Homo sapiens: one gene and its partners. The protein of the gene in region 7 interacts with the protein of the main gene of each other region in a biochemical or structural test. Each region holds a gene or a part of one and is shown on either strand. Other genes may lie near its edges. The genes, in order: EPAS1, NR1H4, HIPK2, CHFR, KAT8, SATB1 and SIRT1.

Region 1 (4,408 bases), on a different chromosome or scaffold from region 7:
CAGCGCACAGAGTTCTTGGGAGCAGCGCCGTTGGGGCCCCCTGTCTCTCCACCCCATGTCTCCACCTTCAAGACAAGGTAAGTGGCAGATACTCAGCTGTACCAGCAGGGCCGAACCGAGAGGCACCCACTAGTAAGATAGCTGGACCCCCAGGGAGGCCCCTGCCCCTCTCCCCAGCCATCTGATACCCCATTTAGCCCTTCTCTGAGCTCAGACTTTGGGGAATCACCTCAAGCCATGTGAGGCCTAGTGTAGGATGGGTTTTTATCTGGGCTGCCACTGAGGGCAGGCAAAGAAGTGGCTTGTTGAGAGCCCTGTACCTCAGTGTCTCCCTTCGGACCACCACCAGAGTGCCTTTCGTATCTCGGTTCATCATCTGAGCCACACAGAAAATTGAGTGATGATTTTCCCTGGTTGAAAACAGCAAAAAGATACCCCTGCCTCCCCTTGCCTTTTGGCTGCCCCCGGGTCCTCGCCACTGCAGCCTCTCCCAGCTGTGCCTAGGCTCCAGAAATGCCTTCCCATCTCCCCAGCATGCTCATTTCACCAGCTGCGAGCTCACTGGGCTAAGGCACAGGGGTTGGTACATGACCTGCCACTCCCAGGGGCCGCTGGTACTTGCCCTTTATAGAGCAGCCAAACTAGTTTTCAGTGGGAGCAAAAGGCAGAGGAGAGACATGGGCAGAAGAAACCCTCCTAAGGACTAACATTGCCCAGCCAGGCAGCCATCCCCCAGACCAGGAGGCTTGAGCCCTTCAGCATCTTATAGCTGAGGAAGGAGACAGAGCTCGAGCTCGGCCTGCAGGTGCACAGCCTGCCTCTGAGACTCTGCCTTTTGGGTCTTTGAGTCATCACAGGCATCAGCATTGGGACTGGAAGGGCCCCTAAGATGAGAAGGCACTGAGTGGCATGTGGCTCCAGACTCCCTCATAGCCTGCTCTCTCGGGCTTGGCAGGTCTGCAAAGGGTTTTGGGGCTCGAGGCCCAGACGTGCTGAGTCCGGCCATGGTAGCCCTCTCCAACAAGCTGAAGCTGAAGCGACAGCTGGAGTATGAAGAGCAAGCCTTCCAGGACCTGAGCGGGGTGAGTCATCCCCACTGGCCACAGGGGCCTCTCCATAGCCCTTAGGGAACCCAGGGCTGCTGAGAGGGGTGGGGATGTGGCCCTTCCAAGCCAGCATAGCCCTTAGGGAACCCAGGGCTGCTGAGAGGGGTGGGGATGTGGCCCTTCCAAGCCAGCAAGTGCCAGCCCTGTTCCAGGCCCACCCAACCCACCCAGTCTGGGGACCTGGTTCTCTGGCCATTTCCCCTTTCCATCTGCCCTTCTTACTCCCAGGGGGACCCACCTGGTGGCAGCACCTCACATTTGATGTGGAAACGGATGAAGAACCTCAGGGGTGGGAGCTGCCCTTTGATGCCGGACAAGCCACTGAGCGCAAATGTACCCAATGGTGAGCAGCGGCCACAGGCCTGGGCCTCCTGGGGGTTCTGGTGGAAGGACTGGGGCTCGGGAGCCCATCCTGGTTCTTCCATTCACCACAGGCCGTACCTGCCTCTCTGAGCCTTGTTAGAATGGGGCGATGTCCTCTGTCTCTCCCGCAGTCCCACACACCCAACTTTTCCATCTCCACTCTGACTTAGATGATGCCATCAGAGGGTCCTGAAGGTTGGCTGTAGTTCTGGTGACTCTGAGCACCTTTTATAAAGGAAAGGGATGCTAGGGCTTCCTGGCCTCTCCCCTCCCTCAGGCCAATGCTACCGTCACTCTCTGACTTTGGTCTTTCAGATAAGTTCACCCAAAACCCCATGAGGGGCCTGGGCCATCCCCTGAGACATCTGCCGCTGCCACAGCCTCCATCTGCCATCAGTCCCGGGGAGAACAGCAAGAGCAGGTTCCCCCCACAGTGCTACGCCACCCAGTACCAGGACTACAGCCTGTCGTCAGCCCACAAGGTGTCAGGTGGGTGTGCCCAGGATCTGTCACCCCCATCCCAGGATTCGATGCCAGGGGAAGCCCACGTCTACTTTTTTTCCAGCGTCTGCACAGTGCCAGGCACAGGGAGGTGCTTGACTTGAAGTCACCTATACAGGGCTCAGGTCTCCTTGGATTTAGGGAACCTCCTCACAAGTTCCTTGTGACATCAGTGATCAGGCCCCCCAGTGGGTGGGTCTGAGACACAGCTAAAAAACTCAAACTCAGGCTAGAATACTGAAGGAAAGAATGCAGACCACTACCGACTGCCCAAAGAGGACTGAACACTGAACACTGGGTTGGCGACCCCCAGAACACTGTACCACTGTTGACAGGAGCACTTTCAGAAGAAAGAGCAGGCGGCCACAGTGGTGAGGGCCTGTTGAAGAAGAGAAGAGAAAGTTCAGAGAGAGAGAGTTGGGAAGCGGTCTGGGCAGAGGCAGGGGATCTCCCGTCTATGCAAGGATGAGCTTGCTGCGTGGAGAAGGGAGTGCTCCTTCCCTGGGGCTTTAGGGAGAACCCTCCCATGATCAGGTGCCATCCAGGGCTCTTTCCACCCTGAGAATCCCGGAGCCTTGCCCCTTCCTCAGTTCTTCATGTGGATGTGTTTTGGGGTGTCACTCTGAGTTCAGGCAGGTGCTGAGAACATGCCAAAACTTCCTTCAGGTAGAACAGCCTGGAAAGCTCTGGTAGGCCCACCCCACTGGACTTGGTTCAACTGCAGGCACCAATGCCTGCCTTCAACCCTGGGCCACCTTCATCTTGACAGTATCTTGTGAAACATATATGTCTTCATGAGGTTTGTTTGGCCTGAAAATAATTCGTGGTTTATGGAAAAACATACCAGGCCCCTGTTCTAAAAGGCAATTTCCTCAGCAATAGAGTTTGGGGAAGGTTATAGTTCTGTGCTTCAGAGTCCAGGCTGTAGAAACACCAGACAGCCCTGGCTTAAATTCTGGCTCTGCTGTTGAGTTCAGGGGCTGGTATATATTTATGTGCAGTAAGAGGTAGCCAGCACTATTCTTCCTGTTATGTGAAGCCCACGAATTACCTTGAATATTGAAATCAAGGGAAAATCATATTCTTTTCAAAAGAGTTGAATCATATCAAACTCTTTTCTGACCATGAATAAGAGAAGTTAGCAAGGGATGGTGAGCAGGTATCCATTGATACTGTCCACAGGAGCAGTCAAGCTGGGGAGGCAGGCATGGACCCCAGCAAGGATCTGAGCTAGGAGGTGCAGGAGGCAATGGCCACTGGAACGAGGCTCTGCAGATAAGGGAAGGTGGGTGGGCATCTCCCATCGGAGGGGCAGAATGCAGGGCTTCCAGGCTCTCTGCTGCCACCTAAGCCTTTCCTCCTTGGGATGGGGGCCTGTGTGTGTGCTGCGAGTGTCCCCCCTGCCACTCCCTGGTCTGCCTCCTCGGCAAGAGAATAGCACAGAGGCAAGAAGAAAGGACTGCTGAGGGTGGTGACCAGAAACTGGATTTTCAGACTGTTGAATCTTGAGGCAGTCTGTGTTTGCATCTGTATGTATGTGTGTGTTCTGCATGTTCTGTGTATGTGAGCATAGGTGCCAGGTGGTTCAGCCTTTCCTCCCTGCTGCCAGGAGGCATGGGGGTCAGCAACCCCAGGCTCTTCCTGAAGCTTCCACATACCTGTGCTGCAGCCCGCACCTCACGCTTTCCTCTTTCTTGGGTCTCAGCACCCCACCTGAGGCAGTGGTTCTGGAGGCAGACACGTTCCCCGGGCATGCAGCAGGCCGTGGGACAGACACCACTGAAGGAGCAGAGTGAAATTAGGGCTGCTCTATTGGTATCCCCCAGTCACAAAGAAGTAGACACTTTTCCAAATGTTCGATTTAGGCCTTTAAGTTATGGTACCAACCCTTCTTTCAGGCATGGCAAGCCGGCTGCTCGGGCCCTCATTTGAGTCCTACCTGCTGCCCGAACTGACCAGATATGACTGTGAGGTGAACGTGCCCGTGCTGGGAAGCTCCACGCTCCTGCAAGGAGGGGACCTCCTCAGAGCCCTGGACCAGGCCACCTGAGCCAGGCCTTCTACCTGGGCAGCACCTCTGCCGACGCCGTCCCACCAGCTTCACTCTCTCCGTCTGTTTTTGCAACTAGGTATTTCTAACGCCAGCACACTATTTACAAGATGGACTTACCTGGCAGACTTGCCCAGGTCACCAAGCAGTGGCCTTTTTCTGAGATGCTCACTTTATTATCCCTATTTTTAAAGTACACAATTGTTTTACCTGTTCTGAAATGTTCTTAAATTTTGTAGGATTTTTTTCCTCCCCACCTTCAATGACTTCTAATTTATATTATCCATAGGTTTCTCTCCCTCCTTCTCCTTCTCACACACAACTGTCCATACTAACAAGTTTGGTGCATGTCTGTTCTTCTGTAGGGAGAAGCTTTAGCTTCATTTTA
Region 2 (5,115 bases), on a different chromosome or scaffold from region 7:
GTCAGTGCAAACTCTCTTCAAAAGAAAATGTACAGGCCTGGGGTGACCCTCTTCCTTGTGCCGAAGGGGCTGGAGGATGCACCATAGTACATTGGGAACCCCCAGAAGTAGGTAGGAAGTAGGAGCCTGTAGGACCTACAAAAATGCTATTTTATAAGAGAAGCAAAATATAACATTTCTAACAGGTTTGAATGTAGATCTTCTACTAGCTGACCTTGTGACGGGAAACAAATGACACACATCACAGATGGGAAATGCACACATCACATACACACACACACACACACACACACACAGGTGCATGTGCAGCCATGCTGCTTTGGGAAGTTGTTTCTCAGCTCACTCATTGATTGCGTTAACAAAGAGTTACACAATGCTTTTTCTGTGAGAGGCACTGTGCTAAGACAAAGGGTAGATACAAAGACAAGTCTGCTACCATGCCTGGTTTTTGTAAAAGAGATAAAACAAGTAGAAAACTATAATATATAAGGTCAGAGGATTTAAGGGACAGCAAGGAAACTACAAATAAAAGATCAAGGGAGTTGGGTGGGGAGAATAGGGGCAGATGAGGAATGGGGCTGGCTTCAGGGAGAACTCTGCTTCTGTTCCACGCCTGGAAGATGTGTGGGTGTGAAAAGAAAGTAACTGAGGTAGAAGGAAGAGCTTGTGCAAAAGTGTGGAGGCGGGAGAGCTTGGTACAGGTTGGCAGAGGTTGGGATGTCTGAAGGGACAGAATGTGAGAAAATCCTAGAGACATTAGGGCTAGATCTTCAGGTGTGGAAGGGGTTCTAAATGTCAAGCATTTTGTGTTCGTTTTTTAGGCATAGAGAGTGCATTGGGGATTTTCGATGAGGGGAGTGCCTAGCAAGTTGCTGGGTACATAGTAGGCTGATAATCAATCAATGATGGTTCAACTAATGAAGGAGAGAAATAATAATTGCCACAAATTATTGGGTGATTGCTATCTGCCACACACTTTTCTAAACATTTTCACTACTCATGTAATTCTCACCACAGCCCATGAGATGGTTTCTCCATATCCATTCTACAGATGAGGAAACTGAGACTCAGAGAGGCTAAGTGTCTTGCTCAAGGCTGTGACTAAAGAGTGGGCATCTAACCAGAGCCTGTGCTTCCACACTGCTGTGCAATTTGGAAAACAGAAGAAGGGGAGAGAAGAAAAAGGGGTTGTGGGACCAATGTCATCCAGAAAGGAAGCTATGATAGGCCCAAAGTAGGAGAAGAACAATGTGGGTTGGAAATAAGAGACATTCCAAAGATGCAATCAACCCAAATCTGTTATTATTTGATATGGGTGGCTGGGCAGAGGGAAGGGTCAAAAAGGCTCCCAGCTTCTAGTTCAGTCCCGGGGAAGTGATAGAGCTATTCAAAGAAGTTGTAGTGAGAGAGAGGGAAGATGACAGTTTGGTTTTAGTTGATGTGTACAGAAATACGGGTGCCCAGGAGCCCACAAAACGGCCAGAGGAGAAATGCTTTCAAAGGCAAGCTGCAGGGCTCCTTGGTTTTGTCACATTCCTCATTCTGGGGCTTTGCGGTTTTGTCTTGGGAATCTCGAGGCTCTCCCAAGGTTCCTTTCTATGTTTATATCATTTAGCAGGGAAGGATTGTTAATGACTAATCTGTGTCCATGAGGCACAGAGCCAAGGAAGAGATGCTGCTGCTAGCCCAGAAGGCCGCCTGTGATCATGCACAGTACACTGGAACTCTCTCCTCCTCCTCACCTCATTGTCTCCCCGACTTATCCTAATGCGAAATTGGATTCTGAGCATTTGTAGCAAAATCGCTGGGATCTGGAGAGGAAGACTCAGTCCAGAATCCTCCCAGGGCCTTGAAAGTCCATCTCTGACCCAAAACAATCCAAGTAAGTACCTAATTCCTTTGGGAGTGGGTTGTGTATCTCACAGCAACAGAGAAAAAATAGTCACTTAAAAGTTTCTCTTTGACATCTGTAATGTATGTCAATAAATGAATTCTAAGTTAGTAGAGTTTGATGTAAAGTCCTGAAAATTAAAAAAGAGAGAAACTAAAAAACAAAAAGAAGCAGAAGCAAAAGTTAATGAGTCTTAACAGTTGCTTACCTATTGAAAACTTATTTAGAAATACTCTTTTAACATTGTGGTCACCTGAGTAAATCACTGGAGATAGTGCATTTCAGAAATGTCTCCGTTCTGATTCCATAAACAATTTGACTTGTATAGTGTGCTATATTTTGGTGATTTATCAAATCTTGATGTGAGTTTGGGAGTATTGCTAATGTCAGATGACTTGGGAACTAAGAATAAGACATTTAACCTATGCTTAATTGAAATGAAATTTTTCCCTAGAAGAAGAGTAGGTGGAAAAAGTCTTCTTTCTTGACTTCAGTTGTAAACTCTTCTATTGCTTTCCATTTTGAATATTAATATGACAGGAAATATCAGATGGAAATATTTTTAAAAGATAGAAATGTGAGTATGACGAAGAACTTTAGTAATAAAATTGTCCAAGGACTAAATTTATAGATAAGATACCTCTTTGTCTCCTTATTGACAGAGTGAATGGGGCAACTGTGGAGCCTGACTTACTTCTTTTAATTGGGTTTTTATTCAGAAGGGAGGGGCAGGAGGGAATGACAAGTGACTCACCTTGAATTCTTCCTCTAAGAAACTCACACCTGAGCTTTGAGCTATAAAGAAATCTGATGCTGTTTCTGGTGCTGTCTTAGAATCACTTCAGGAGTATTGACAAGAGGGGTAGGAACCCTTAGAAATAATATTAGTGATAAATAAGAAGGCAGGAAGAAACTTTTGGAGGTGATGGATAGGTTTATGGTATAGATTGTGGTGATGATTTAATGAGTGTATGCCTATCCCCAGACTCATCAAAGTGTATACATGGAATATGTAAAGCTTTTATATGTCAGTCACACCTCAGTAAAGTGGTTTACCTATCTATCTATCTATCTATCTATCTATCTATCTAAATTTTTTTTTCTGTTCCTAAAAAAAGGAAGGGAGAAGAGAGGAAAAGATGTTCAGGGAGCTACCATTTTGTTTCTAGCTGTGATTTTATAAAATGATAGACACTTTTATCTTTGTGTTACGTTCCTACCCCCAGTCCTCCAAATTATGGATCTGTGCCATTTGTACCGTGGACTTTTCTGTTTTCTGAGGATGTTGCAACAAATACTGATGCAACTCCTGGTTAACTGATAAAGTACTGGCCAGGGACAAAGCTCTCTTGTCCTGAGACCCTTCCTCAAGATTTGCAGCAATTTCCCACCACGTACCTCTGCCCTCTCCTCACAGCTGGAGAGGGAAAGTCATGGAATCCTTGTCCTTCCTCTTGTTTCCACCTCTTCAAGATTGGGCCAATTGCAATGGAATATCCATTGGTTGTGAGGCCTTTGTACTCTGCAAGGAAAAGAAAAGAAATGTGTGTATGTATGAGTGTGTGATGGAGCTAACTTTTCTACAATGTCTACTAACATGTCCTAGCCTTTACTTCATTCGCCTGTTTCCTTCTCACAAAAACCCTGTATGGGAGTTTTTCTTTACTTTTTATTATTATTTTTTTGAGACAAAGTCTCGCTCTGTCTCCCAGGCTGGAGTGCAGTGGCGCTATATCGGCTCACTGCAGCCTCCACCTCCCGGGTTCAAGCGATTCTCCTGCCTCAGCCTCCTGAGTAGCTGGTACTACAGGCGTGCACCACCATGCCACTATTTTTTGTATTTTTAGTAGAGACGGGGTTTCACTATGTTGGCCAGACTGGTCTCGAACTCTTGACCTCAGGTGATCCGCCCGCCTCGGCTTCCCAGAGTGCTAGGATTACAGGCGTGAGCCACTGCGCCCAGCCAGGAGTTTTTCTTATACTCATTTTACAGATGAGAAAACTGAGACTCAAAAAATACAAGTGACCCGTCCACAGGCAGATAGTTAGGAAGTAGCGGGACCTGAACTTGAGGGCGGGTCTTTCTGACTCCAAAGCCTCTTCCTGGCTACTCTGATATTGGCTATTGGCGGAGGCTGGGAAAACTTGAAATGGGGAATGATCGGGGAGCGGCGAGGGGGGACCAGCCGTTAAGCATTCCAGCCTGACAGGGGTGATTTGTTAAACCCAGGAACTAGTTAGACGTTTCCTGAAACCTCCTGCATAGGGCATTTTCGAGAGATTGCACCATCAGTAGGGAAACTGGAAAGTTTGGAGCACTATTTGTTTTAACCCAGAGACCAGTCTAAGATAGCTGGGTGAATATTTCCGTTATCAGCGTTTTAATTAAAGACCACAATGAACTCTCCATGCTGCTGTGATTAGGGACATCTTAGAGAGGAGCTCAGAACTGCTGTGGCTCACAGTCTCTGGATTATGAATGCCATGAGAATGCATATCATGATGTGATAGATTTTCAAAGGCTCACATTGTCATTAGGTGGGTGCATAAAGGACAGAAAAGGTTCTTTACTTCATAGAAAGAGATTTCCCTTCCCTTTGCTCTCAGTCTCATTTTTATCTTAGTCTCTAGCAACACAGATTATAAAGGGGAATAAAAGAAAATAGGAACAAGCTAGATACAGTGATGAGTGCCTGTGATCCCAGCAGCTCGGGCGGCTGAGGTGGAAGGATTGCTTGAGCTCAGGAGTTCAAGGCTGCAGTGAGCTATGATAATGCCACTATACTCTAGCCTGGGTAACATAGAGAGACACCACCTCAAAATTTTTTTTAAAAAATAAGAAATAGGAACAATTTTCCTCCCAGGTATTTTTTTATTGTCACAGTAGTTTCTACCAGTGAAGATGTAGCTAAAAGGCATCACCATACGAGTGTCCTTAGTCACCAAGCTGTATGAGGAGGCAAAAATCATTATTACATACAAATATTCATCCTTCTGTCTTTTCTCTCCCTTCTCTCACCCTGCTCTGGAATCCCCTAACCCCTTTGCTCTTCACAGTGAATTATTTTCTCCCTCAGTTTGCCCATTTCCAATTTTGGCCATAAAAGAACATCTACTATTCCTACTCTCTCTGCTTTGTAAATTGGTGATAAGATGACACTAATATAATGCAACTTGATTGCAAAGTAAAATTGCAAATATTGCACAGGAAAAAAAATAAGATT
Region 3 (4,408 bases), on a different chromosome or scaffold from region 7:
CACAAGGAGACAGGAGCTGCTGAATGCCCAGTGGCACTCACAGAGAATGTGCCACCTTAGTCACTGTGGGGAGATAAAATTATATGTCTACAGTTCCTGCCTTCAAGTGATCTTAATGTACTTACGAAATTAGGACATGTGCACATTGCGATGTCAATTAGAAGTCACATTAGAACGGAGCCAGGTAAGATCCGTGGCACAGGTGTTCAGCGTTGGAAGGGCTCCCTGGGACCTGGGGTGCAGAGCAGAAGAGTTCCGTCCTCCCGGATGGGTAGGATCCAGACAGGTGGTGGAGAGAGAGGGATGTGCCATCCACAGTCCGCAGTCACACTAGTGGGAATTTACAGGAGACAAGAAGGACACCCGCCTGGCCAGAACAGTTTGTGAGTGGTGGGAGATGTGAGTGAAAGCCTGGTTGGAACCAGGTCACTGGGGGTCTTAAATATCAGATCAAGGAATTGCAACTGTATCCTCAAACCCAGAGCAAGCCCTGGAAACCTTGAACAACATAAGGTAACGGGTTGAAAGGGATGTTCCGAGAAGGTTCCTTGTCTATCCACGTGCAGAAGGGCTGGAGGAAGGGAGAGACTAGTCTGGGGCCAGCTGGGTGGCTCCTGTGGTAAGGTGACTTCAGGCTTTGGGTCAGGATGAGGGAGGAATGATAGTGTCCGTGGCAGGGAAGTGTGTTCAGTCATGGACTCACACATGCAGTCATTCAACAAGCTTTGATTTCACTTTTAATATGTGCCAGCCGCAGTGCTAGGTATAGGGATATAGACAGGGCCCTTGCCATCCTGGGGTATCTGGAAGCTTTTCAGGGACCCCTGTATGCAGTCAGGATTGGAACCGCTGCCGACATGGAGCTGAGATCGGAGTGCTGGCTTTGGAGTCAGGAAAGGCCAGAGTGAACCTGGTCCCTCCTCTCCTAATGGCCTGATTTCTCCATGCCTTCATTTCCTAACCCATGAAGTGGGAGAAATCCTCTCACCAGCCTCGTGGGCAGCTGGGAGGTAACATGGCTGTAACATGGCTTAGGTGTGTCACTCCGTGGCTGGCCATGGCGGGTGCACAGCGGGGAGGCGGCAGGGATGGAAAGCAAGACCCTGCTCTGTGGAACCAGCCTGGGGGTGTGTTTGGGGTGGTGCCGAACAGTGCAGTGGAGATAGAGGTCACAAGAAACAAAACTGAAACTCCCATGAGAAGATGGGACGGATGCACATTTAAGAGCGTGCCACGTAGGCAGGAAGACCGGGGTCCCCGGAGGCCATCCTGCTTGCAAGCAAGCACGCTCGCTTGCCCGTGTGCTTTCTCCATGCGCCTTTCAAGGCCACAGAGAGAAGGCTGGAACATGCCCCAGGGCCTTGTCGACACAGCTGACCTGTCACCCATTCCTGGGGCTGACCTGGGCCAGCTTCCCCTTCTTGCTCCCTGTCCGGGCCCCCATCCTGGCTGCAGGCAGAGCTGTTGCAAGTCTCCTCCCAGCCCCTCCCTCAGCCTGCTGGGCACCAGGCCCTCCTTCCCTGGGAGAGCAACAGCCCCTCCGTTCGGATCCCCAGATGCCCTCCCACCTTCCACCCCGTCTCCTTTCATCCTAATCCTGACTCACACAGGAGGTTTCGAGGCCTCTTCACCCATGCTGTTTCTGTCTCTTCCCTCTTCCCTTTAGGAGGCATTTCCTGAGTTAGAACAGCTCTCTGCGAGCCTCTTCTCTGCCCTGCCCTGAGGATTCCTTTCCCGCTCATTTCCTATGCGCAGAAAGGTCTCCACAGGCCTGTGCTTTCACCACCAGGCCCCGTGCGGACAGACGGGTCTACTGCTGCCCCTCCACTTGCTCTCCACTCCCTCGTCCTGACCAGGCCATCCACTCTGTGCCCCGCTGGCCCCAGAGCCAATGGCAGGGAGAAGTAAGCCCAGGGCAGGAGCCTCCAAGGAAGACAAGAAGCCTCTCCTTGTCTCCAGAGGAGAAGGATGGGCAATGGTTGAGTGAATCTGGAGGGTTGGGTGCCCGGTACCGACAGCACATATTCTCTGTAGAGAGTGCCTGGGCCTCTGAAAGCCAGCTCTGGTGGCCGTCCCGGGTACCAGCCCCATTGGGGGCTAGCTGGTGCTGTGCTGGCTCTGGGAGGCTGCTGTGCCACTTCGTATTTAGGTTGGTAAATTCAGCATGCCAAAGGCTGGCTCTTTCTAGTTCTTGGCCTGAATTCAGGGTGAACAGCCCCTGACTTGGCTGCTAGGGCTTTTATGTAGTTCATCTGAATTGCTGCATCATGAACACGTACCAGTGTTATTAACATTCACTGAAAGCTAGCATGGCGACTTGTAAAAAGACTTCGACAAACTCTGTTTAAAAGGCAGCACATCCTTAGAGCGAAACTTGGTGAATCGAGTAAGCTGAATTGGGGATTCTTAAGACCCCCTTGTCATCTTGCCTTCTGGTGCCCATGTGACGCTTCCTGGAGCCCTCCCTGCCCATCCCCTTGGACTCTGCGAGTTTTTCTTTGCTTTCCTGCCTGGTGCTGGTGCCCCTAGTGCTGAGGAGACAGGTCGCAAAATCGGGGATCCTAGCTCAGGAAGCCTGCGGCAGCAGTAAAAGTTTGCCTGTGAGGGTTGGGGAGGGCTGACTCCTTCACCTGGACTCACAGCGATCCTCTCCTGCCCCCCTCTGTGGGTGAGATCAGGCCTTTTGGACGCCTCTGGTGGGTGTGGTAGGCTGGTTTGCTGGCGGTTCCTGGGCCCTCAGGAGCCCTCTTTTCCCCACTTCGTGACAGGCACAGTCACATCTGGCCCCTGTGTCCCCACATCCCTCTGAAGGACCCTCCGTTTAGTTGTGATAGTACCCTCTTTTCACCCCTGAAATCACCATTGCCTAAAATTCTGAGCAAGAAGGCCTCTTTCTCCTTTCTGTGGTCACCTTCAGGCCCTCATGTCAGCCTCCCTGTGCCCAGCCCTGGTTCCAAAAATACGGTCAGCAGGAAAGACAGCGGCTCTTCTGCCTGAAATGAGGCTTCATTTCTAAGTTGGTGCAATGTTCTGTTTCTCCCTCAGGCCTTGTCTGAGCCCTGCAGTGGTTTGCCACCATATAGATCGATCCGATTTTTCGAGGACAGTCTCTAGTGCTCTGTCTCTTTTCGTCCCAGCTGTGTGGGACAGCCAGCTCTAGGCCATGTTTATCAAGTTGATTTTCCTGGTGGCTTTGCCTCTTATAGGAAAGAAAGGGGGCAAGAAAAGCTCTTTAATTGTCCATCGTTAAGGCCCATGTCCCAGAAAGAAGACGCTTTCAGATGCTTTCAGCTGCATCTGCATCGTGAGGGAATGGCTGTGTGTTTGAGCCGCCTGGGCTGGAGGAGTCATTGCATGCTGTGCATCCAGCCTCCCAGCAGGTTGGCCTTTGTCCTGCAGGTGGTGGGTGGGGACTTTCTCCCCTCGGCCCCCTGTATCTGAGCTGGGCACATTATCGTCCCAGGACATCTGACTTTCAAAAGGTAGAGTACTTATGTGTCCCTCTGTCATTTTGCATGGGACTGGGCTAAGTGTCTCATCCCACCATTGTCCCCACCTAGTGACACAGAAACGGTGTGAGACAAGGATATGTTATCCTCGCCTTGGGGACTTGGAAAAGGAGGTGGTGTCCCCGGAGCCAACTGTTTTCCCCAGCTCTCAGGCATGTGCCTGGCCACAGTGGCTGTTGGTATTCTGTGAGGCAAGCCCACTGGTGTGTTTTTCAGGAAACAAAGGCTGCTTTTTAAGTTTTTTTCTCGAGTCTGAAGCAGGGGTATTCCCTTCCAATTCGAAGGTCAGTTATGTCATTAACTGTCAGCTGCCCAGGTTCTCAGGCTTTACTGTGCACAGGAATCTCCTGGAGAGGTTGCTGGGAACAGAGTCTCCCTGGGAGTACCCTGGGAGAAAGTCCACACCCACCACCACAGAGACTTGCCTCAGAGAACTGGAGGTGAGCCAGGCAGGGGGTCTTAGGACCAGTCTTTGAGAAACACTATTCTGAAGGACAGAGGGATTTTCTTAATGGTGTCACCTTTCAGGTGTTGACACCCAAAAGAACAGAGTTGCAGGTAATCCTTGCTTGTATTACTTCACCTTGGGCGCCCCTGCCCTTTTGTTATTTAATTCTACATTGATGCCAGTTCATTTTGTTTGTTTTTAGTTTTTTTGTTTTTTTTTTGAGCAAGCAATAAATTGGTACTGGGGTATTTCCATTATCAGCAGAACCAGTAAACTACAAATAAGACCAAATGTTAAACTCCACTCTCAGAAAAAAACACAAACAAAAAGACATGCCATTCAGGCAAAGGGTAATCAGTGATTAAAATATATAGATTTTTTTTGGTTTCTACTCTGGATTATTCAAAATATTCTTGTCTAGAGTTTTTTGAAACACGTAGGACTGTTACCA
Region 4 (4,408 bases), on a different chromosome or scaffold from region 7:
TTAATTTGCATTTCTCTGAAGATTAATGATGTTGAGCATTTTGTCATGTGCTTAATTTGCCATCCATATCTCTTCTTTGATAAAGTGTTTAAATTGTTTTAAGTTGCATTATTTACTTTCTATTTATTGAGTTATCAGAGTTCTCTATACATTCTGGATACAAGATCTTTGTCAGATATGTGTTTTACAAATATTTCCACCAGTCCATAGCTTGTCTTTTCATCTTTTTAAACAATATCTTTGAAGAACAGATTTTTACTTTTTTTTTTTTTTGAGATGGAGTCTCGCTCTGTTGCCAGGCTGGAGTGCAGTGGCACGATCTCAGCTCACTGCAACCTCCACCTCCCATGTTCTCCCACCTCAGCCTCTCAAGTAGCTGGGATTACAGGTGCATGCTACCATGCCCGGCTAATTTTTTGTATTTTTAGTCGAGATGGGGTCTCATCCTGTTGGCCAGGCTGGTCTCGAAGTCCTGGTCTGAAGTGATCCGCCCGCCTTGGCCACCCAAAGTGATGGGATTATAGGCGTGAACCACCGCCCCCAGCCTTACTTTTTTTGTTGTTGTTGAGCCAGAGTCTCGCTCTGTCGCCCAGGCTGGAGTGCAGTGGCGTGATCTCGGCTCACTGTAACCTCCGCTTCCTGGGTTCCCACCATTCTCCTGCCTTAGCCTCCCGTGTAGCTGGGATTATAGGCGCCCGCCACCATGCCTGGCTAAGTTTTGTATTTTTAGTAGAGACTGGGTTTCACCATGTTGGTCAGGCTGGTCTTGAACTCCTGACCTTGTGATCCGCCCGCCTCGGCCTCCCAACGTGCTGAGATTACAGGTGTGAGCCACCACGCCTGGCCCAGAATTGACTTTTTTTTTCTTTTTTTGAGTCGGAGTCTTGCTCTGTTGCCCAGGCTGGAGTGCAGTGGCACCATCTTGGCTCACTGCAAGCTCCACCTCCTGGGTTCACGCCATTCTTCTGCCTCAGCCTCCTGAGTAGCTGGGACTACAGGCGCCCGCCATCACGCCCAGCTAATTTTTTGTAGTTTTGGTAGAGACGTGGTTTCACCATGTTAGCCAGGATGGTCTCGATCTCCTGACCTTGTGATCCGCCCCCCCCTTGGCCTCCCAAAGTGCTGGGATTACAGGTGTGAGCCACGGCACCTGGCCCACATTTTACTTTTGACAAACCTCAGCTTATTATTATTATTTTTTCCTGGTTTGTGCTTTTTATATCCTATCTGCGAAGTCCATGCAAGACCCAACGGCACTAAGATTTTTGCCTGTCTTTTCCACTGGAAGTTTCATAGTTTTAGATTTTACATTTGTCTCTGTCTGGCCATCCTTACACAGCCACAATACTGTATTGTTTACTATAGCATGATGGTAAGTCAGTTAAGTAATATGAGTCTTCCAGCTTCATTCTTTTTCAAAATTGCTTTGGTTTTTCTACACGTTTTTTCTGTGAACTTTAGAATCAGCTTGTCAGTGTCTACAAGCCCTCTGGGATTTTGACTGGAATTGCATTGAATGTATGAAACAATCTGGAGGACAGCTGACATTTTAACAATACTGAGTCTTCTGATTCACACACCCATAGGTCAGTGATGGGAGCAAGGCTCAGGCTAAAGCAGATTCAGGGTGTCTTTCTGTGTGGAACGTTTAGGAAAAGTATGTTTGCATGCCACTGTCTCCTGACCAAACCCTTCGCTTTTTTGTCTTCTAGTATCTTTATGTATCCTTATAGATTATTATAGGCAGTAATGATTAATGATGAGATATTAAAACGCCTTTGTTCTTTTGATTTAAGGAGAGGGCAAGTATTGAGGATTTTCCCTCTTGCTTTTGTATTCAGGGCCGGGCGCTGGTGGCTCACGCCTGTAATCCCAGCACTTTGAGAAGCCGAGGCGGGCATATCACGAGGTCAAGAGATCGAGACCATCCTGGCCAACATTGTGAAACCTCATCTCTACTAAAAATACAAAAATTAACTGGCCCTGGTGGTGTGCGCCTGTAATCCCAGCTACTCAGGAGGCTGAGGCAGGAGAATCGCTTGAACCCGGGAGGCAGAGGTTGCAGTGAGCTGAGATCGTGCCACTGCACTCCAGCCTGGGCCACAGAAAGAGACTCCGTCTCAAAAAAAAAAAAAGAAAAAAAAAATCCCAAAGTGTCAGAATTACTGTATTCAGCTATAGATGCATCCCTGTATATAAGATGCAGTTTCTTATACGTGTACAAATGCCTATCGCAGGCCAGGTGCGGTGGCTCAAGCCTGTAATCCCAACACTTTGGGAGGCTGAGGCGGGTGGATCAAGAGGTCAGGAGTTCAAGACCAGCATGGTGAAACCCCGTCTCTACTAAAAATACAAAAAATTAGCTGGGTATGGTGGCGCATGCCTGTAGTCCCAGCTGCTCAGGAGGCTGAGGCAGGAGAATGGCTTGAACCTGGGAGGTGGAGGTTGTGGTGAGCCGAGATGGTGCCACTGCACTCCAGCCTGGGCGACAGTGCGAGACTCCATCTCAAAAAAAAAAAAACAAACAAAAACAAAAAAAAAAACAAATGCCTATCACAGTTGGCTCAGTCACTTTTTCTGTGACTGTCATTGCTTCAATTTTATGTTGATTTATGAAACCTAAGTTTACACAGAAAAGAAATTAAGGACTAAATTAAGATACTGAAGAATTACTTAAGCCCCTGAGTTTTTTTTTTTCTTTTTTTTTTTTTGAGACAGAGTCTTGCTCTGTCACCCAGGCTGGAGTGCAGTGGCGCCATATCGGCTCACTGCAAGCTCCTCCTCCCGGGTTCTCGCCATTCTCCTGCCTCATCCTCCTGAGTAGCTGGGATTACAAGGCGCCCGCCACCACGCCCGGCTAATTTTTTGTATTTTTAGTAGAGATGGGGTTTCACTGTGTTAGCCAGGATGGTCTCGATCTCCTGACCTTGTGATCTGCCCGCCTCGGTGTGAGCCACCGGACCTAGCCAACCCCCTGAGTTTTTTTAAAGTTCTAATAATACTCATCAGGTTAGCTGTGTATGCAAGCATATTGTAAAATTGCTTTTTTTTTTTTTTATTTCCAGTTGGAGTCTAGCTCTGTCGCCAAGGCTGGAGTGCAGTGGCGCGATCTCAGCTCACTGCAACCTCTGCCTCCTGGGTTCATGCGATTCTCCTGCCTCAGCCTCCCAAGTAGCTGGGATTATAGGCAACCGCCACCATGCCCAGCTAATTTTTGTATTTTTAGTAGATATGGGGTTTCACTGTGTTGGCCAGGCTGGTCTCGAACTCCTGACCTCGTGATCCATTCACCTCAGCTTCTCAAAGTGCTGGGTTTACAAGTATGAGCCACTGCGCCTGGCTGTAAAATTGCCATTTAAGAGGCTGTGTGTAACTGGAGGTATTGATGGGTGTCTTTGAGAGGGTGGGGATTCAGAAAGGTTCAGGATGGGCCGGGCGCGGTGGCTCACGCCTGTAATCTCAGCACTTTGGGAGGCCAAGGTGGGCAGATCATGAGGTCAAAAGATCGAGACCATCCTGGCTAACATGGTGAAACCCCGTCTCTACTAAAAACACAAAAAATTAGCCAGGCGTGATGGCGGGCGCCTGCAGTCCCAGCTACTCTGGAGGCTGAGGCAGGAGAATGGTGTGAACCTGGGAGGCGGAGCTTGCAGTGAGCCGAGATGGTGCCACTGCACTCCAGCCTGGGCGACAGAGCGAGACTCCGTCTCAAGAAAAAAAAAAAAATTTCTTTATGTCTTTCTTGGTCAAGTGTTTTTTTTTACATATGTACAATGGGGATCCTGAGTTGGAACCACATACTTTGGTAAACAAAGTGCAGTAGTGTTCACAGTTACCACGATCATATCCCGTGTTGACCCACCCTCTCTTTTTTAGGTTGCGACCTTTCCTTCCCCAGCAATAAACTGGTCTCTGGAGATCACTGTAGAATTGTAGTGGATGAAAAATCAGGTCAGGTGACACTGGAAGATACCAGGTGAGTATGTTCTGAGCTTCTTTTGGTGTTTCTTCTTGTAGCTTAAGAAGCCTGACTTCGTGCTCTGTGCTGTGTGCCACGGCTGAGGAGGAGAAGAAATGCTGTCTTTAGTGTGATAACAGCGGCTCATTTTTATAACAGCACAGTCATGTGTCCCTTAGCAACAGGGATCCAGTCTGAGAAATGTGTCAGACAATTTGATCATCTTGCAAACATCATGGAGTATACTTAAACAAACCTAGATGGTGTAGCCTACTACATACCTAGGCTATATGGTATAGCCGATTGCTCCTAGGCTATCAACCTATACAGCGTGCTACTGTACTGAATGCTATAGGCAGTTGTAACACAATGGTAAGAGTATTTATCTAAACACAGAACAGGTGCAGTAAAAATATGATATTTTAATCTTGTGGGACTCCTATCGTATAT
Region 5 (4,408 bases), on a different chromosome or scaffold from region 7:
GGCGTGAGCCACCACGTTTAGCTGAGTATAATTTTAAATAGCCCTATGTGACAAGTGGCTACTTTATTGGACAGTGTAGATCTAAGATTAATTCCTCAACTGTTTTGCACTCAACAAAGACATACCTCTGAGTTGGCAACCAGCAGGGTGGATAACGGGCCAGTGGTGATAAAATCAAAGAATAGGTAATGAAACAATCATCCAGTTAACAATCAGCAAGGTTCTTCAGAGCCTAATTAATGTTTAATTCTAAATAAATTGCAACAATTAAGAAAAGTAGTGTTTTTGTAGTTCTTTATTGCATTTGCAGAAGAGTACTGTATTTTGTGAGAATTGGGAAATGTGTTTTAAAGAGATGTGTGAGGAGGAAAATCTTTCTTCCTCATCTTTACAGTGGTTAGGTTCAGAATTGGACAGACCAGGGGCCCATGCCCAACTCTGCTGAGTACCAGTTCTGTGACCTTGGGCAAGTGACCTCACCTCTTTGTGCCTCAGTTTTCTCTCATACAACAGGGACAATGAGCACTCTTATTTCAAAGGCTCATTGTGAGGAACAAAATGAAATAATGTCGGCTGGGTGCAGTGGCTCATGCCTGTAATCCCAGCACTCTGGGAAGCTGAGATGATTGGATCATTTGAGGTCAGGAGTTCGAGATCAGCCTGGCCAATATGGTGAAAGCCCGTCTCTACTAAAAATACAAAAAGAGGCCAGGCGCAGGCAGACCACGAGGTCAGGAGTTGGAGGCCAGCATGGCCAACATGGTGAAACCCTGTCTTTACTAAAGATACAAAAAATTAGCTGGGTGTGATGGTGCACACCTGTAATCCCAGCTACTTGGGAGGCTGGGGCAGGAGAATCGCTTGAACCCAGGAGGCGAGGTTGCAGTGACGTGAGATTTTGCCATTGCACTCCAGCCTGGGCGACAGGGCGAGGCTCCATTTCAAAAAAAAAAAAAAAAAAAAGGCTATGGCTCATGCCTGTAATCCCAGCACTTTGAGAGGCCAAGGTGGGTGGATCATCTGAAGGTCAGAAGTTCAAGACCAGCCTGGCCAACATGGTGAAACCCCATCTCTACCAAAAATACAAAAAATTAGCCGGGCTTGCTGGTGGGCGCCTGTAATCCCAGCTGCTTGGGACACTGAGGTGGGAAGATCGCTTGAACTCAGGAGGTGGAGGTTGTAGTGAGCCAAGATTGCACCATTGCTCCAGCCTGGGCAACAAGAGCAAAATTTCATCTCAAAAAACAAAATAAATTAGCTGGGAATGGTAGCAGGCACATGTAGTCTCAGCCACTTGGGAGGCTGACGTAGGAGAATCACTTAAGCCCAGAAGGCAGAGGTTGTGGTGAGCTGAGATCTCCCCACTGCACTCCAGCCTGGGCGACAGAGTGAGAGTCTATCTCAGAAGAAAAAAAAAAAAACATGTCTGTGCCGTGCTTGCCACTTGGAATAAATGGCAGCTCACTAGTCCCCGAGGGTAAGGGACCTCACCTTGCCCTGCCTGTTTACTACTCTGTAAAATTGAAATAACGCAGCTGGGTGCAGTGGCTCACGCCTGTAATCTCAGCACTTTGGGAGTGCGAGGCTGGTTGATCACCTGAGGTCAGGAGTTTGAGAACAGCCTGGCCAACATGGCGAAACTCCATTGCTACTAAACATACAAAAATTACCTGGATGTGGCGGCATGTGCCTGTAGTCCCAGCTACTTGGGAGGCTGAGGCAGGAGAATTGCTTGAACCTGGGAGGCGGAGGTTGCAGTGAGCCGAGATGGTGCCACTGTACTCCAGCCTGAGCAACAGAGTGAGACTCCGTCTCAAAAAAAAAAAAAAAAAAAAAAGAAATAACACTCTATGTAAGGGTTACTGAAAGGATTAAATGAGGCCATATAAACATATAGGCACAGTGCTTTGTGGAGGGGGTTCTGGGTAAAGCACTGGCTCCTTCCTCCCTTCTCAGCTACAGGGCAGGGCCTTGTCTGCCCTGGTGTAGGTCATGGACCGTCTTGGGTCCCCCTTCCATTGTCAGGCTGTACTGGGTTCCTCCCACAGGGTCTGGCCTAGGAGCAGGATGTGTTGTGAGTGTGGTGTGACTCTTAGTCTCTGCTTTCTAAGGACTTGAAAAATAGAGGAACCCAGGTGGGCATACTTGGACAGTGTTGCCCTGTTGACCACTTCTCGCTGAACTTGGGAAGGAGGGAATGTTTTCTGGATGGGAAGAATCCAGTCAGGCCTCCTGGAGGGGGTGGTAAGAATCTCAAGCCTTGAAGGATGGGAAAGAGCACAATAACAACAGTGACAAAGGATAGATCACAAAGCATCATGGACTCACCTGACTCATGCTCCGTGCCAGGCTGAGGAAGTGTTTTCTGCTGGCAGTGAGAGAAGGAAGGGCATTCTCCAGGTAGAAGGAGCTGTTTGTGCAGAAGCATGAAGGCCGCTAAAAGGGGGCTGCTGATAGCAATGAGGAGGCTGGGGCTGGAGGCAGGGAGTCTGAGGCGGCCTAGTAAATTGTCCAGACCTGAGATGGGGCCATGACTACCTGGAGCAGGACAGAGAGGAGAATTCCAGAGAGGGCCCAATTCCAGAGATGTCAGAAGTAGACTCGACATCCACTGTATTAGGACTTGGCCAGGCCGAGGGAGAGAGAGTAGTCTGAGGCAAGCCTAGTTATGGGTCTTGGACACTGGGACCAAGGGTGATGTTCCCAGTAAAATGAGCAACCCAGGAGGAGGCGCAGGTTTGCAGGGAGGAGTGATGAGGTCCTTTCTGCACATCTTGAGTCCGCTGTCCCTGTGGGAGGGACCTCTGGGGCAGTCGCATGGGCAGGCAGGGTCTGGTCCTCAGGAAAGGGGTCCAGGAACATCGGGGAGGTAGTAACAGTTCTTACGCTGGGCCTGGAAGGCAAATCTGTTATTTCATTTGAGTCTCACAACTTTGGCAGAGCTGGATTGCCCCCCATCGTGCAGCTGAAGCCCCATCCTGATCCTAACCCTGTTCATCTGGCAAAAGGTCCAAACTTGGACATCAGGGATGTCTGGGATATCGGGGGTGGGGCGGGTGGGTGTGAGAGGAGTCTGGACCAGCCAGCTTCAGAACCAAGTCAGATAGGTTAGCTATTGGTGTGGTTATTATTGCCATCCAGGAATGAGGTCTGGTAGACGGCAGGGAAGCCTTGTGGGTCCTGACGGGAGGGACAGCCTGGTCACCACTTCTGTTCACCTCTGCCCACTTTTCTTTCCTGGCCCAGACTTATGCAGAGATGGACCCCACCACAGCAGCCTTGGAGAAGGAGCATGAGGCGGTAAGTGGGGCTGGGAAGCTGCCTGCAGGTCCCCCGTCTCCCCTTGCCGAGGAGCCCCTGCTGAGCCGTGCACTGTGCCTCACTCCCACCCTGCCTGCAGATCACCAAGGTGAAGTATGTGGACAAGATCCACATCGGGAACTACGAAATTGATGCCTGGTATTTCTCACCATTCCCCGAAGACTATGGGAAACAGCCCAAGCTCTGGCTCTGCGAGTACTGCCTCAAGTACATGAAATATGAGAAGAGCTACCGCTTCCACTTGGTGAGGCTGGGCCGGCCGGGCCGAGCTGGGCAGGGGCCCGGTGAGAGGCAGAGGCAGGCATGGAGACTGAGGGCGGCTGCGCCGGCAGCTCCAGGGAGGAGACAGGCCCAAAGGAGCGAGTACAGGGAAGAGCTGCTGGGGGTCAGGAGGCCTGGATTCCAGGCCTGGCTTTGCTGTTGCTGGCAGGGTGACCTTGCCAACTTCAGACCTCAGCTCCTCTTCTCTGGAATGGGGACAGTAACTCACCCCCTTCAGGTCTTTTGCCAAGGCCAGCTCCATCCCAGGAAGCACACATAGCCCCTGGCAGTGGGACCTTAAGTGTGGATGAAATTGGGGGCTGTCAGGAAGGGGCGCTCTCATCACTGACACAGTGGGCTGCTTCCCGAAGTGTGGAATCTGAAGCGAATAGGTGTGGTTTAGGGAAGCCATTGTCATGGACGGGTCCCTCCAGAGCCAGGCCCACAGAGACTCAAAACCCCACCGTGCTGTGTGATGTTTGGATCTCTGTGCCTGGGCCTTGGTCTGTAAAAGCAGGATCACTTTCCTAAGGCTGCTGGGAGGATTACTCGATGTAGGTGAAGTGTTGAGGGGGGAAACAGAGAGGCAGAGACTTGCTCCAAAGCATGCAGTGGTGGGTTGGGTGCCTCCTAGCAGAGAACATATGGGCAGCGAACCTGTTCTCTTGTCCCCGACCAGGGTCAGTGCCAGTGGCGGCAGCCCCCCGGGAAAGAGATCTACCGCAAGAGCAACATCTCCGTGTACGAAGTTGATGGCAAAGACCATAAGGTGAGTGGGTGGCCAGGGGTTGGGAGAGGCCGGGGAGGCCCTGGGCACCTCCCAGAT
Region 6 (4,408 bases), on a different chromosome or scaffold from region 7:
TTTAGTCATTGAAATTACCGTAACCAAAATTTGCTGGGAAGATTGAAAATGATTTAAAAAAAGAAACCCTCCTAGTGATTCATTAAAATCATGTTTTTCTTCATTTTTGTATGTTAAAGGGCTGACAGTTTTCCGGGCATTTATTAAAAGCAGGATAAAGATAAGTCACGATAGGTCATCTTTTTGTGGTATCCTTGAGAAATTTAGAAGCATGAAATGTATAAATTTAAAATTTTTATGATCGGTTTGAAATTCAAAACTTAAGCTTTACTATTGATGAAGCCAGTAATAAGATTGCAGAATGTTTTTCTCTTGATAGAGGATCTCTGTGAATAGTTTGTTTCTTCTCAAATACGGTCAGTTAACCTTTGATCAGTGTTAATGCGCGTCCACTTTAAATCCAAATAATAGAGTGGAAAGTGCAAGTTCTGTTTCTCAAATTTTAATATACATGTGAATCCCCTGGGATCTTGGTAAAATTCAGCTGCTAAGTGCACTGGTCTGGGGTAGGGCCCAAGATTCTGCATTTCTAACAAGCTTCCAAGTGATGCCCATATTGCTGGTCCCTGGTCTATACTTTGAGTAGAAAAGATGTAGAGTCCAGTCAAAAAATCGCGAAGTCTCGTATATTTATGAGTCACAATTATAAAGTCATCTTCATGTATTTGGATTTATTGGGACCAGTGAGTTTGACAGCCTAGTAATAGATGGCATTGATGGAGATTCAATGAATGCTAGAGCAAAGTCTGTGGGTTTGATAGCTTTATACTGGTCTCAGTGGGCTGTTGCTTTCTACTTAAATAAGCATTTGATGATCTACTTAATGAATATTAAGAAGTCGAAGCTTTAGGCTAAAGTGTGAAACCAAAATGTATTGGTACTCAGTTGATTAAAAAAATACAGTTGCCACAATTGAGATCATTTCTGTGTTCCATCTTGTGCTGCTGTGTATTACAAATATTCTCCCCCCTTCTTCATGCAGAGTATGATTTCTTCCATTGTGAACAGTACTTACTATGCAAATGTCTCAGCAGCAAAATGTCAAGAATTTGGAAGGTGGTACAAACATTTCAAGAAGACAAAAGATATGATGGGTAAGCAAAAAAAACATTGCAGCAGTGGCTACATACCATTACGTGTCATTTGGGGGTTTATCAAAGTCACATCTAAAGCCAGGTCTTTTGATTGCCCAATTAGAGATCAATTTAGAATGTTTCTTTGGGGGTGGGAAGTGGGTATGAGTATAATGAGATAATTAAATTCAATAAATGTTTGTGTTTAAATCAGCCAAACTGACTTGGTTGTCAGACATGCAGGAAATTGAGGCGTTGGGAGGGGAGCTGTCATTTTTTAACAACTCAGTGAAGACCTAACCAGGCCTTGAATAACTAATATTAGCTGTGATTTCTTTCTCTGATAAGTCTTGCTTTTAGGTTTTTTGTTTTTGTCTGGTTGAATGAGAAAGTGCCTATTTTTACACCCAATTTTAAAGGAAATTAAACTTCTTAAATTAAACTATTTATAGTTTCCACAGTAGAGATCAAGTGATTTTTATAGCTCTAACCCCCAGCCGCCATGGATGGGCACTTTGATAAGCACATTGCTTTACCATCCATACCAGAACAATTATTGCATCATTTCTGAACTTTTAATTCCAAGGTAGCATTCTATCTTAACACATAACTTTAGGTGAATATTTGTTATGCAAGAAGTACACTAAAATTATCTGCAGTGTAAAATGATAGATAAAAGTTGTGTATGGTACCTAAGCATTTAGATGATGGCATTTTCTCTCTGTTGAGTTTGTTAATGTTCACAAAAGCAAACACTGTGATTAAGGTTAATGTTTTAATTTTTATTACTGTTCTCTTTCACCTACTTTTACCCTCCAAAACATATATTTTAAAATAATATAGGAATGGGCATTATGTCCTGTTTTAAATCTATTTCTATTTATTTCTTTACATTCATTTAATTTTTTTTTAATTTTTTAAGAAAAATTAATCCAAATTTTGAGCAAGTTTTAGCTCTTAATATTTGAAGAAAAACCATCCATCTACCAAAATGGATTCTTTGCCTTTTATAGCTTAAGGCTGTAATGAAGACAATGCATCATTTTTGGAATAATTGCTTGAATTACTGTTCTCTGTGAATGGCCCACTTGGGCTGATATCACTGGTAGAAATTGAAGATTTCTTCCCCAATTCTTAGTTATATTTTGCGTATATCAGGAGCTATAGCGCTATGATAAAGTTCCTCTAAATGTAAAACCTGCATATTTAATGAAAAGAGAATTGATGATTAAAATCAAACTAGAGTCTACATGTGGGAAGTCTGTGTACAATTTGGAAAGTCCTGTTTATGTACAGCTTCATGCTCAGCCCTTCCAGCCAAGAGCATCGAACCAGTCTCCTCTTCGTACAGAAAAGCATTTACATACTTAGAGATGATGCTCAGCCAATCCATATGAGGAACCTAGCCAAGGAAGAAGCATTCATCCTGGGTAGGTGGGAATAAATTGCAAAATCATGACAGCCTCACCATTGTACCAGAACGATTCCCTGCAAGATTGTCTTTAGCATCTGGTGATGGCCATAGCTTCCTGAAGAAAAAACATTTGGATCTTAGCAACACTGGGTATGCTGGCTTGATATACAATAAATCACTTGCTTTATTCTAAAAAGTATTTCCAGATATACCTACTGCCCATGATGGTTAGAATTAAAATGAAGCAAGGCATATAAGATATTCAGCAAGTGTTCAATATACACTTATTATTATGCCCATTTTTATTTATTACATTAACTACTTCTATTCACTGCTGGGTAAAAATTGAAAGTAGGTGACTTTTTATGTCATATTTTTTCTTTTACACCTTTTTCCTAGAGTACTAAAGTTAATGAATATCATGAGAATATATTTGTAAATTTTTTTAGTTGCTTATTATAAGCTTATTTTCTCAGCTCAGCTCACTGTTTGTAGTTGTCATTAAGCAAATGACATTCTTTTAGAAGCCATTTTTAAAAATTGTTGCTTAGAAGCCTTCTTGGGGTAATAAGTGAGAGTGAACAACTAGTTGGAAAGAGTTTGGGTAATAATTGATTTTATGCCTTAAATCTAAACCACTTTTTAAAAATAAGATTAGGAATGCTGTCCCATTTCCAAAGTTTGTAGAATTGTTCAGGAAAGGAGAGCAAAAACACAGCCTGGTAAGTTGCAACTTGAAATTTTCTTGGTTTTATTGGATTTGGGGTGTGCCCTGTGCCTACCCTTTTTTAATTTAGGAAATGGTTAGAAATCTTTATCAATGCCAATCATTGTTGGCTGAATGTGATTTTACTCTTTGTCCACTTTAGTTGAAATGGATAGTCTTTCTGAGCTATCCCAGCAAGGCGCCAATCATGTCAATTTTGGCCAGCAACCAGTTCCAGGGAACACAGCCGAGCAGCCTCCATCCCCTGCGCAGCTCTCCCATGGCAGCCAGCCCTCTGTCCGGACACCTCTTCCAAACCTGCACCCTGGGCTCGTATCAACACCTATCAGTCCTCAATTGGTCAACCAGCAGCTGGTGATGGCTCAGCTGCTGAACCAGCAGTATGCAGTGAATAGACTTTTAGCCCAGCAGTCCTTAAACCAACAATACTTGAACCACCCTCCCCCTGTCAGTAGATCTATGAATAAGCCTTTGGAGCAACAGGTTTCGACCAACACAGAGGTGTCTTCCGAAATCTACCAGTGGGTACGCGATGAACTGAAACGAGCAGGAATCTCCCAGGCGGTATTTGCACGTGTGGCTTTTAACAGAACTCAGGTCAGTTGTGTTTCATAAGTGGTTCTGTGCTGTCTCCTATTTTCTCTTTCTTTAGTCCCATCTATAACTAAAGTTTATTCTTTTACTTCTGTACTAACATTTTCTCTCTCTCTTCATGTGATCATATTACCTATTCCTGGTGGAGCCTCAATTTTACCACTCCTTTTCCTATGATATACTTCTGAATCAAGGGAACCTATGTGCAGATTGATCCCAATTCAGGGCCTTTGAAAGACTAATTAAATGTCAAACGTACTTTAAACTGGCATTACTTATGCTTTTATATAATGGAATCATAAGCTATAGTAGATGGTTAAGAAAAGTTTCATGACTCAGTCAAGGCTATTGGCAGGATTCCAGGCTTCTAGCCTATTGTCTTTTCCATTTATGTTGTTACTACCCATATCAAACTTAGGTATATAAATGTTCCCTCTTAAAGTTCTACTGCAGCGTTGTTGTTGTTGTTGTTGTTTGTTGTTGTTAACACCTTGGAAGCAATAATCCACTTAATTCTAAGCAGCCATTTTGAAAAAATATTATATGACTTATTAACATAAAATATTTGTAAGCTGTGTGCGCTCCCTCATGCTATTGTCT
Region 7 (3,235 bases):
TCAGTAATACTTTCGCCCTCAAAACCTTTAATGGCTTAAGTAGGTTCTCAGGTCAGCCTCAGAAAGTTGATACCAAATGTGGTCTGCAGTCTTCAGACTTGAAAGACCTAGCATCCCAGAACAGATTTTCAGTTAACCCAGCCTTTGCATCAGATGGATTTTCACTATCCACCACTTCCTGTTCTCTCTCAAATCCCAAACTCCTGGTCCTTTATCATAGGACATGTCACATCCTTCTTAGGCCCTGCCCTGCCTTTTCTCCATGTTTTACTTGCTCAGGCCTCTAGCCTAGAATGGCTGAAATAGTTTTTGAAATGCTTGGTGGTGATGCATCACCTGCTACGATCAGCACCATCAGGGTTTTGCAAGTACTGGTCTGGTGAGACTAATGTAATAAACCAAATGAAGAAATGTAGTATGAGAAAGAAAGCATCTAATACTATAGCATTCGAAGCTGTACAAATTCTGTAAGACTTAAAAATTATATACCTTAAACAATGTAAGTTAACAGAAAAAAGTCAAATGACAATTTTAATAGACTTTAAAACAGTGTACAAGTAAAAAACACTGGTTTTGTATTTCAAAAGTTGAAGGAAGATATCCAGTCATTAAACAGTCTACAAAACATATGCCAGTAAATTACATAAAAGACTATGTACAATATAAAAAGAGCTGAAAACAGTCTTCACTGTAAAAATAATTTAAAACAAACTTTTCAATTTAAAATATCATCTATAGCACACAAACATCATGCAAATGGAAAACTAAATATACTGCATTCTTTAGTGTAGCCAAATAAATTCAGATTGAGACATCTTATAAGTAGGGAAATGGCCATTCAATACGATTTTTTTCTCTGGCAGTAATGGTCCTAGCTGGGTGTTTTATGCATAAAGAACAGCTATATTTCAAACCCTTTTTATTGTAATAAATACTAAAGCAACAGAGGAATACTTTATTAATTTAGGAGTGATGTTCAAAAATGGTCTGAAAAATAAATGCTTACTGTGCAATTTCATAAAGTATGAACTTCTTGAAAGACTAGAAGCTTTTGCAGCTGAGAAAGTTGATCTCTAGTTTTAAGGCAGGCTAAGCTTTTAAATAAAGATAAATTATAAGAACTAGTTTCATTCATTAACTATTCTGCTATTACAAGTTACATCATCATGTTCATCTCCATAATACTAGGGCTAGCAGTTTGGTATTTAACACCAAATCCTCCCAATGGGAGACATGTACTTTCTGGCTGAATTACAATTAACATCTTATTACTTTGGAACTGTATAATCAGGGGCCTGTTGCTCTCCTCATTAATGGAAAACAGCAGTCCAAAATATTACACTCTCCCCAGTAGAAGTACCATTATTATAGATTCAGAAAGGCTTTGCATATTCACATTTTGGCAGTTTAATACTTGTGGAAAAGATCAATGCAAGCTCTACCACAGTGATAGGTATTTAAACAACAATGGCAAATATTTCAAAACTAAGGGGATCCAGGCAGGCACTAATGTTTCTAAAGCAACTGAAACATTTCCAAAGCATTTATTTGTTTTTCAGGTTAGTTTTATGAGCCAATATAGACATTGCTACATGTCCACAGGAAGTACAAAAGCCATCTTCATTTGAACGTAAATACAATAATCCTGAAATTCTTAGCACCAAGTATTACTTTTAAAAGTAAAGACAACCGAGTGCTCTCCCCACATATTGTTGACTTCCTTCTACTCACACTGCATGTCATTTGAGATTTTAAAAAGTTAGCTGCCACAGTTTTGGAAAATGCCAGTGTTTAAAAATAATTGTGTTAAAGAATCAAAAGTTTAGCGTAACAGATTTTGAGTACTTCAAACCATTCAATGTTACAAAGAAAAGTGAAAATACCATTCTTTGGTCTAGATTAGCTGTTCCCTTTACATTAATTTAACATTCCGATGGCTTTTTGAAAACTTTAAAAATGTTGAAACTCACTAGACAAAACAAAAAAAATTATATATACACATATGAATTTATCATACAAATGAACCTTTAAAAGAAAGTTAGTCTTGACCAACAGCTGATTGAAGATACTTAGTACCTTTTTTTTTTTAAAAAAAAAAAAGTTAGTGTTGAGTTTGTACAAGTACAGAAATAATGAAGTTAAAAATTATCCATGAAAAACAATCTATTTTACCAACCTATAAATATTACACCTTTCTGGTTTCCTTGCTCTATCGAGTTCACAAGTAAACATTCATTTTGACATGCTAAAGTTCCTAATGCTGGTGGAACAATTCCTGTACCTGCACAATTATTACACTATGATTTGTTTGATGGATAGTTCATGTCTGTTACTTCCTGTTTCACAGATATAGCTTCATTAATTGCCTCTTGATCATCTCCATCAGTCCCAAATCCAGCTCCTCCAGCTCTCTCTGGAACATCAGGCTCATCTTCTAAGCCATTGTAGAATTCTTCAATTTCACTTTCATCCTCCATGGGTTCTTCTAAACTTGGACTCTGGCATGTCCCACTATCACTGTTACTGCCACAAGAACTAGAGGATAAGACGTCATCTTCAGAGTCTGAATATACCTCAGCGCCATGGAAAATGTAACGATTTGGTGGCAAAAACAGATACTGATTACCTGAAATACAGTAATAAAAATGTTACTTTCAGTTTTCTAACACTAACTCAGTCTGAGCAGTCTGGAATGAAGTGTGGGTTCCAGCTCTGCCTTTATTATAAGTGTCCTTATGAAAGACTACTATTAGTGTTTAAAAACAACTGGGAGGCATGGTGTGCCTGCAGTCCCAGCTACTCAGGAGGCTGAGGCAGGTGGACTGCTTGAGCCCAGGAGTTCAAGGGCCAGCCTAGGCAACAGAGTGAGGCCCTGTCTCTTAAAAATTAATTAATTAAATAAATACAAGCAATACACTTAGTCCTGGGTTCAAATCTTAGTTCTGCCATTTATTGTATCTTTGTAAGTGTACCTCTGTGCCTCAATTTCCTCATCTAGAATATGAAATAAATTTTCACAACCCTATGAAGGAGGGAAGTGTGAAAAATGTAGAAAACCATATTCAATAAAGGTTATTTCACCAATTATTTTAAAAAGATTTGATGAAAATGAAGTATCCAGCCCAGCCTACATTAGATACCCAATTTGTGTTAAGTAGCTTCTCTAAAGTACACAGGCTTTTAAAGCATCTTCATTAACTATTTTAACTTTTTTCTGATTATAAACCTAAAATAT

The links.
Region 1: of the proteins of SIRT1 (region 7) and EPAS1, one has a biochemical effect on the other in vitro, tested with the Homo sapiens proteins (one study listed by BioGRID).
Region 2: the proteins of SIRT1 (region 7) and NR1H4 form a complex in vitro, tested with the Homo sapiens proteins (one study listed by BioGRID).
Region 3: the proteins of SIRT1 (region 7) and HIPK2 form a complex in vitro, tested with the Homo sapiens proteins (one study listed by BioGRID).
Region 4: the proteins of SIRT1 (region 7) and CHFR form a complex in vitro, tested with the Homo sapiens proteins (one study listed by BioGRID).
Region 5: the proteins of SIRT1 (region 7) and KAT8 form a complex in vitro, tested with the Homo sapiens proteins (one study listed by BioGRID).
Region 6: of the proteins of SIRT1 (region 7) and SATB1, one has a biochemical effect on the other in vitro, tested with the Homo sapiens proteins (one study listed by BioGRID).

What each region holds. Positions count from the first base shown.
Region 1 is NC_000002.12:46,380,641-46,385,048, forward strand, and holds part of EPAS1 (endothelial PAS domain-containing protein 1), read left to right. Parts: coding exon 1-77; intron 78-955; coding exon 956-1,082; intron 1,083-1,334; coding exon 1,335-1,449; intron 1,450-1,784; coding exon 1,785-1,958; intron 1,959-3,868; coding exon 3,869-4,020; 3' UTR 4,021-4,408.
Region 2 is NC_000012.12:100,472,178-100,477,292, forward strand, and holds the start of NR1H4 (bile acid receptor), read left to right. Parts: upstream 1-1,688; 5' UTR 1,689-1,882; intron 1,883-5,115. UniProt on the Homo sapiens protein: Ligand-activated transcription factor. Receptor for bile acids (BAs) such as chenodeoxycholic acid (CDCA), lithocholic acid, deoxycholic acid (DCA) and allocholic acid (ACA).
Region 3 is NC_000007.14:139,711,513-139,715,920, reverse strand, and holds part of HIPK2 (homeodomain-interacting protein kinase 2), read left to right. Parts: intron 1-4,408.
Region 4 is NC_000012.12:132,877,123-132,881,530, reverse strand, and holds part of CHFR (E3 ubiquitin-protein ligase CHFR), read left to right. Parts: intron 1-3,876; coding exon 3,877-3,976; intron 3,977-4,408. UniProt on the Homo sapiens protein: E3 ubiquitin-protein ligase that functions in the antephase checkpoint by actively delaying passage into mitosis in response to microtubule poisons.
Region 5 is NC_000016.10:31,123,789-31,128,196, forward strand, and holds part of KAT8 (histone acetyltransferase KAT8), read left to right. Parts: intron 1-3,246; coding exon 3,247-3,300; intron 3,301-3,400; coding exon 3,401-3,565; intron 3,566-4,261; coding exon 4,262-4,351; intron 4,352-4,408.
Region 6 is NC_000003.12:18,393,865-18,398,272, reverse strand, and holds part of SATB1 (DNA-binding protein SATB1), read left to right. Parts: intron 1-982; coding exon 983-1,094; intron 1,095-3,356; coding exon 3,357-3,811; intron 3,812-4,408. UniProt on the Homo sapiens protein: Crucial silencing factor contributing to the initiation of X inactivation mediated by Xist RNA that occurs during embryogenesis and in lymphoma.
Region 7 is NC_000010.11:67,915,656-67,918,890, reverse strand, and holds the end of SIRT1 (NAD-dependent protein deacetylase sirtuin-1), read right to left. Parts: intron 2,627-3,235; coding exon 2,298-2,626; 3' UTR 501-2,297; downstream 1-500. UniProt on the Homo sapiens protein: NAD-dependent protein deacetylase that links transcriptional regulation directly to intracellular energetics and participates in the coordination of several separated cellular functions such as cell cycle, response to DNA damage, metabolism, apoptosis and autophagy.